2 linked regions of the Homo sapiens genome follow. The protein of the gene in region 1 purifies or fractionates together with the protein of each later gene. This does not show direct contact. Each region holds a gene or a part of one and is shown on either strand. Other genes may lie near its edges.

Region 1 (3,964 bases):
GCAGTGAGCCGAGATCATGCCACTGCACTCCAGCCTAGGCGACAAAGTGAGATTAGTCTGAAAAAACAAACAAACAAACAAACAAACAAACAAAACACTATTTTGGGCCAAGAGGCAGTGGCTCATGCTTGTAATCGAGCACTTTTCGAAGCTGGGGCAGGAGGATGGTTTTAGCCCAGGAGTTCGAGACCAGTCTGGGTAAGATAACGAGACCACATCTCTATAACAAAAATTTTTTTTAATATTAGCCAGGCATGGTGGCATGTGCCTGTAGTCCCAGCTACTAGGGAGGCTACAGTGACAAGACTGCTTGAACCCAGGAAGTTGAGTCTGCAGTGAGCTGTGATTGTGCCACTGCACTCCAGCCTGGGCGACAGAGAGATCCCATCTCAAAAACAACAACAACATCATTTCCCATCACAGTAAGAAATAAAATCCCTAGGGCACAAAGGCTGAGGAAATTCTAGTCATGGTCAATGGTTCCAAAAGAGAATTCCACATTTCTGGAAAATAGTTTATTAATTCATTATAAGGACAGATACATGAATCAATGCCTTAGCTTAACACTAAAGAGTATCATATTTGTAAGGAGAAAAAAAAAACGCTGGAAGGATAATTAAATAGTACAGCATAAACTAAATACAGACAAATAAATGAGCAAGTACTGATTACACTTGTCATGCATCAAGAAAAGGAAGATTTTTAATTGAGACTCAGAAAACTTAAGGCATCAATGGTAGGTGACAAAGGGATTAATACCCTGTAAAAGGCCAATAGATTCTTTTCTAATAAAAATACTGCTACAAAGACACAAACCTAACACTTCCAAATTACCCAGAGCCCAAATCATATATAGTGCTAGTGAGAAATGGCCACTTTCTTATCAACTGTGAGTTATAGGCAGATACCAGATTTATTACTTATTTGCTTTTGAGAAACAATTTTCCACCCAACCTAATGGGTTATAAATTGTCTCATTTGCAGCTATTTAATTTAAACCAGAACCTCAGTGCCTGTTAAACAAGAACATGAAAAATGACTATGTGGTATAATGCTAAGAGCCTACTGTTAAAACAGCCATTTAATTCAGGGCAGTTTTTTTTTCTTCTTTAAAAAAAAAAAATCAAACCAGCAAAATAAAATGAGGCTTTTGACCTTCAGAGCAATGATGAAACATACACAGTGGTGTTAGCCACAGCAGCGCTGAATGCTACAGAAATACTACAAGTGACAATTCTGTCTTTAACGAGATACAAAACCAACATTAATAATCTTTAGTGTTATCATAGGCTGGCTGAAGGAGGGGGAGGAGGTGGAAACGTAGGTGCAGACATCAACAGTGAGTGACACCCGAGTATAATAAACACAGATGCTTTCAGGGTTTGAGGAAGCCGCAACTGTGCTGAGAGACATTCCACCATTTAAAAAAAAAAAAAAAAAAAAGGAAAAATGGACTGGTTATTTCGAATTTGGCCCAGAAGGCAGAGTTAACTCTTGATGTGCCAATCAGACATCATTAGGGAGTAAAGACCCTAACATTCTATGCTCCTATGAGAGGGCTGAGGTGAAAAACCAAATAAATGACATTGTTTTCACTACACAGAAAATAGAAGTCAAGCTTGTCCCTGTGCGGCAGGTGAACAGAAAATGACTTGAGGATTCAATTTAAAGAAAAAACAAACTGAAATGAGCTACCCCTTTTCCTGTGCAAAGACCTCCTTGCCAGCACCCCAGAGGGTGAGATTCCTGTCATCCCCAATCCAGATCAAGTCAAGCCTCACAGGGTGGGAAGGGCCTCCCTGAACTCTCACTCCCCTTCTCTTCCTTTAGCTTCTTCTGGAAGAGAGGCCCAAATCATCTCCATCCAGTAAACTTGCCCCCCTGCATAGAAGGGAGGGCATCTTTTTATTCTGAGCCTCTGGATCACAGCCCCCTTCCCTGTCTCAAACATTCCCCTCTATGACTTGGATCCATCCATGGAGAACCCTTGGATCCCAATCCCAAAGGCAAGATGCAGGGAAGCCAGAAGATCTTCTCCACACCCGCACTGGGCGTGGGTGGGCTGCCTGGGGCAGGGCAAGCAGAAGCACTGAGTGAAGAGGAGGCAGGAGGATGGCAGGCGAGTGCGCGGCAGCCGCGGATACAGGAAGGGCACGGGGGCCTTGAAGCAGACATGAGGTAGTCACGTTGTTAGAGAAGGATGCAGAGTTTGAACCCAGGCAGGAGAACAAGATGACATAGTCTGGGAGAGGTGTGAGAGATAGCAGAGGAAGGAAAACAGGAGAGAGGAAAGGAAAGAGTATCTGGGAGCAGGAGAAGGGCACTGGTGCTGGGAGAGCGAGGTGACTGGGAGACAGAACACTAGAGCAGCCAGGGGCAAGGAAGGAGGGGAAGAGTGAGAGAAAGCGGATTTTCAAAACCAGGCACTTCCCAGATTACAAAATTAAATGCAGAGTTGCTCGGAGGGGAGCCAGGGCCACCCTCTCTATTTGGGCAATAAGGAGCTGGGAGGTGATGCAGCTGAAATGCCAGGCATTCAGAGCCTGCTTGCACCCAACCCAGCCAGACAGGAGAATGGGCTGGGACTGTCTTTGTCAGACAGGCATTGGAGACACTCTCAGAGTGTGTAATAAAAGGCTGGGCGATGGAGGTGGGGGCCCACAGGGCTGGGGACTGACCACTGTGGGGCACCGTTCTGACCTGGAGGACCAATCAGGCTGTAGTGACCACTGCCTGGGCCACGGTTTCCCAGCTCAACAACCAGTACGCATACATGCACTTCACACATGTGCACATCACATGTAGCTATGTCTCGTATGTCTTTCACATGTCACATGTGTATCACAAAGAGTATGGGGGGAGTGAATAATCCATGTTTTCCTCTCCCCTCAGCCAAAGCAACTTAGGAAGCTCCAAAGGGCTTGATGATGTATCTACAGGCACACATGTGGACATACACGGCCACAGGTATCGCATCCTATGTGATCCATACCTGCCTGCCCCAAACCACATCCTCTGGGAAGAGCTAGGCAGAGGAGGAGACCGGGGATCTGGGCAGGCCTGGGCTGGCTCCTAGAGGGCAGGGGGATTTGAGCTGGCAGCTATCTCCAGGGGTCTCCTCTAGCACCTCGCCTGGCTGGAGGTCCGGGTAGGAGCAGGAAGCACTGGCTGCCTCTGGCAAGCAGGTAAGTCTGTCTGGCCCGGGGGCTGCCAGCTCACACCCTCCCAACTCCCTGTCCAGCCAGGCTGCCCCCTGCCCTGGATCCCCAACACCCGAGATGAGATCAGGAGCCTCTGGAGGCAGGGGGTCCTCAGGCTCCAGGTCTTGGAGATGGAGGTCAGGGTTCCCGTTAGATGCACTAAAGTCAGAGTGGACAATGACTTCAGCCTCCACCTGGTTCCTGCAGGCTGGGGGTGACTTCTTCCTCCCATTGCCCTGATCAGAGCAGAGAACACAAAGACAAAGTGACCATTACTGAGAGTAATCATCAGAATGACCAGCGTACGTGGGGCAGAAAGTCTGACCCTCCATCAGAGTAAGTATCACATGGGAGTCGGTGAAGGATACACAGGAACTGTTCGAACCTATACAAAGGCAGGGAATGATGGAATACTTCCCATTTGCCCTCATCCAGGAGTTTCAGGAGTACCAGACTCAGTCAGGGCCTCTGGGGACAGGAGGAAGGGCTGAGCGTACTCAGGCCAGCCACACCCTCAGATCCACGGAACTGCTGTGGCCCACTTAGGTCTGGGTAGAGGAGGGGCTGTTTTCAACCCAGGTTGAAACAGGTTCCTGCAAACTGGCCTGCCCTCCACCTACTCAACCTTTGGAGGCTCCAGGGGTCTCCTGGCTAGACTTCTATCCCCAGGAAAGTTACCACCCAGGGGTCTCCAGAGAACTCATTACTTCCTCTTCACAAGCACAGAGACCCTTTCCTCCTTTCCTGCCCCTTCCTTCCAGGAC
Region 2 (3,500 bases), on another chromosome or scaffold:
TTCTTTGGGCTTCACTCTCTTGAAACAACTGTAAGTTACTGGAACATAAAAATAATTTTCGTAACCTTTTTTCTCCAAGCTAACAATGAGCCTTTGAGAGTTCATATTCTGCCTAGACCCCTGCATAGAGTTTGAATATGTGAAAGTTGCAGAGGCTTTGTGCTGTAGAGTGTTGGGAGAGCTCCCTGGATTTGCATAGCTCTAACAGTCTCATGTTTGGGTAGGCAGAGCACTGTTTTACCCACACAAGAAGGGATATGAAGGCAAATTCAGGATGTATGGCAATAAACTTTGCACACTAAACAAAATCAGCAGACATTGAACTGACTTCAAGTCACTTACGAGCAATCAGACTGAGAGTTGGGGTGCAGAAGAGGGTGTGCTGGATTTCCCCATCTGGACCTTGACTTGCCATTTATTGTGTCTGTCACAGCAGGAGTTGAGTGGGAGGAAGCTACGAAAGTGACTCTCTCATCTGTTTTCCCCACTCATTAAAACAACACTCTCCATCTAGTACAAGATCTAAGCCAGGCTGATGACACACTGTCAGGAAACCTTGGACAGGTCCACTCTGCTTCAACCTTGACACAAAACAAAAGCTGTGCTTTCTGTCCTGACAGGGAAGCAAATGGGGAGTTCAGATAGGAGAGGAAAGTGAAGAATGACTAATATTTATCTAGTGTTTACATTTAGAGTAGGAAGTTTCTTGACAAAGCTTTCTGCCTGGTTTGGGACCTTCCTTATTTCCTTGGCCTTCACTCTCCATTTCAGTTATGATCAGCCTGAAACCCCTGTAGATTGCTGGGACGTGAAAGTATGTTGGAATGGGGGAAGCAGATGGGGAACTCAGTTAGGAGAGGAAGGGGAAGAGGGACCAATATTTATCTAGTGCTTAATCTGTGCCTGGCAATTGGTGAGCACTATGTTTAAATGATCTCATTTACAAGTGGCTTAATTGTATGGCTTGATTATTCCTTAAATATTTGACACTGTGTTTAAATATAAACACTCAAATATATTTGCATGCAAGTTGTAGATTAGTTTTAAATTAACTACAGTTCTCTGCTTTCTTTTACTCCAATAATAGAGTTGACATAGAATACATGTATTTAGAAGGAAATTATTCAGATTTTCACTAATGCTATTTGCAGATGGCTGGCCTGGGGAAACCTTGGGAAACTCAGATGAGGACTAAATAGTGTTGCACAAGGCAAACAGAGCTCCCCAAGACAGCTGTTTGCCCTCTCTTTTTCCTAAAAGCTGTTGAACTCAGGAAAACTGTGGGTCGTTCTCTACTTTCTGTGTGTCTCACTCTCTGCCACCGTGGGCCCTCAGTGTTGTAACAGTTCAGCCTTGACGTGTATGAGAAAATTACAAGGTAGAAAACCCATGCCCAGCCATATGATCATAGGTGTTCCATGTGAGTAGAAACCAGTGTCAGCAAAGGTGTGCAAAAAGTGTGCACTTGAGCCCTCTTCATGGGAACACTCACTGGCAAAACATTTCTAGGGGATAGTTTGATGAAGGGAAGGTAAGAAAAAAATTGTGCAGTCCTTTGGCAGAGTGATAATGTTGCCTCTAGAGCAGGGGTCTCCAAGCCCCCGGCCATGGACCAGTACTGGTCTGTGGCCTGTTAGGAACCCAGTCTCACAGCAGGAGGTGAGCGGAGGGTGAACAAGCATTACAGCCTGAGCTCTGGCTCCTGTCAGATGAGTGGCAGCATTAGATTCTCATAGGAGTATGAACCCTATTGTGAACTGCACATGCGGGGGATCTAGGGTACGTGCTCCTTATGAGAATCTAATGCCTGATGATCTGAGGTGAAACAATTTCATCCCAAAACCATCGCCCCCACCCTCCAGCCCATGGAAAAATTGTCTTGCAGGAAACCAGTCCCTGGTGCCAAAAAGACCGGGGACCGCTGCTCTAGAGGTTTAGTTTGCAGAAGGGAGCTCTGCACAAGACTGTTTGTAGCTGCATTGCTTTATAATGGCAAAATGGGAAACAATTAAAGTATCTGTCTGTAAAGAATTGGTTAAATAGTACATATGAGAACTAGCAGCTTTTAAAAACAGTAGAATAGATCTTTATGCACTGAGATGGAAAAATGGTTCCACGTTTTATTGTTCAGTATACAGTCCCAGAATAATTCCATTTTTGTAAAAACAACTCAAGAGCATCTGCCAGGGTTTTCCAGAGGGACAGAACTAATAGGATAGATGTGGCCGGGCGCGGTGGGTCACGCCTGTAATCCCAGCACTTTGGGAGGCTGAGATGGGCAGATCATGAGGTCAGGAGATCGAGACCATCTTGGCTAACACGGTGAAACCTTATGTCTACTAAAAATACAAAAACTTAGCTGGGCGTGGTGGTGGGCACCTGTAATCCCAGCTACTCAGGAGGCAGAGGCAGGAGAATGACGTGAACCTGGGAGGTGGAGCTTGCAGTGAGCCGAGATCACACCACTGCACTCCAGCCTGGGCGACAGAGGGAAACGCCATCTCAAAAATAAAAAAAGGATAGATGTATATATGAAATGGAGTTTATTAAGGAGTACTGACTCACACGATCACAAGGTGAGGCCCCACAATAGGCCATCTGCAAGCTGAGGAACAAAGAAGCCAGTCTGAGTCCCAAAACTTCAAAAGTAGGGAAGCTGACAGTGCAGCCTTCAATCTGTGGCTGAAGGCCCAAGGTCCCCTGGCAAACCACTGGTGTAGACCCAAGAGTCCAAAAACTGAAGAACTTGGAGTCTGATGTTCAAGGGCAGGAAACATCCAGCACAGGAGAAAGATGGAGGCCAGAAGACTCAGCCAGTCTAGTCCTTCCACAATTCTTTTGCCTGCTTTTATTCTAGCCATGCTGGCAGCTGATTAGATGGTACCCACACAGATTGAGGGTGGGTCAACCTCTCCCAGTCCACTGACTCAAACATTAATCTCCCTTGGCAACACCCTCACAGACACACCCAGAAACAATACTTTGATCCTTCAATCCAATCAAGTTGACACTCAATACTGACCATCACAGCATCTATGTATATAATGATATCTGTGTCTGTATGTGTGTCTGACATTGGAGAAAGATACAGCAGATAGCAAATATTGTATGTTCTCACTTATAAGTGGGAACTAAGCTACCAGGATGCGAAGCATAATAATGGTACGGACTGTGGACTCGGGAAGCGAGGAGTGGGGTGAGGGATAAAAGACTACACATTGGGTACACTTTACACTGCTCTGGTGGTGGGTGCACCAAAATCTCAGTAACTGCCACTGAATAACTTATCCGTGTAACCAAAAACCACTTGTTTCCCAAAAGCTATTGAAATAATTTTTTTTTTTTTAAAAAGGTCCAGCAGGATATATGCTGGATTGTTTATAGAAGTCACCTCTGAGAAATGCTATTGGAGATGATGGTGACTTTCATTTCTTAAAATGTATGTAGGTCTATATTTTGATACTTTTATAATGACTGATTATTATAAATTAAAGGTGTTA

What was found.
Region 2: the proteins of IGDCC4 (region 1) and DPY19L1 purify together in Homo sapiens (affinity purification with mass spectrometry; one large-scale study listed by BioGRID and IntAct). This does not show direct contact.

What each region holds. Positions count from the first base shown.
Region 1 is NC_000015.10:65,380,984-65,384,947, forward strand, and holds the end of IGDCC4 (immunoglobulin superfamily DCC subclass member 4 precursor), read right to left. Parts: intron 3,437-3,964; coding exon 3,026-3,436; 3' UTR 501-3,025; downstream 1-500.
Region 2 is NC_000007.14:34,932,986-34,936,485, reverse strand, and holds part of DPY19L1 (protein C-mannosyl-transferase DPY19L1), read left to right. Parts: intron 1-3,500. UniProt on the Homo sapiens protein: C-mannosyltransferase that mediates the C-mannosylation tryptophan residues on target proteins.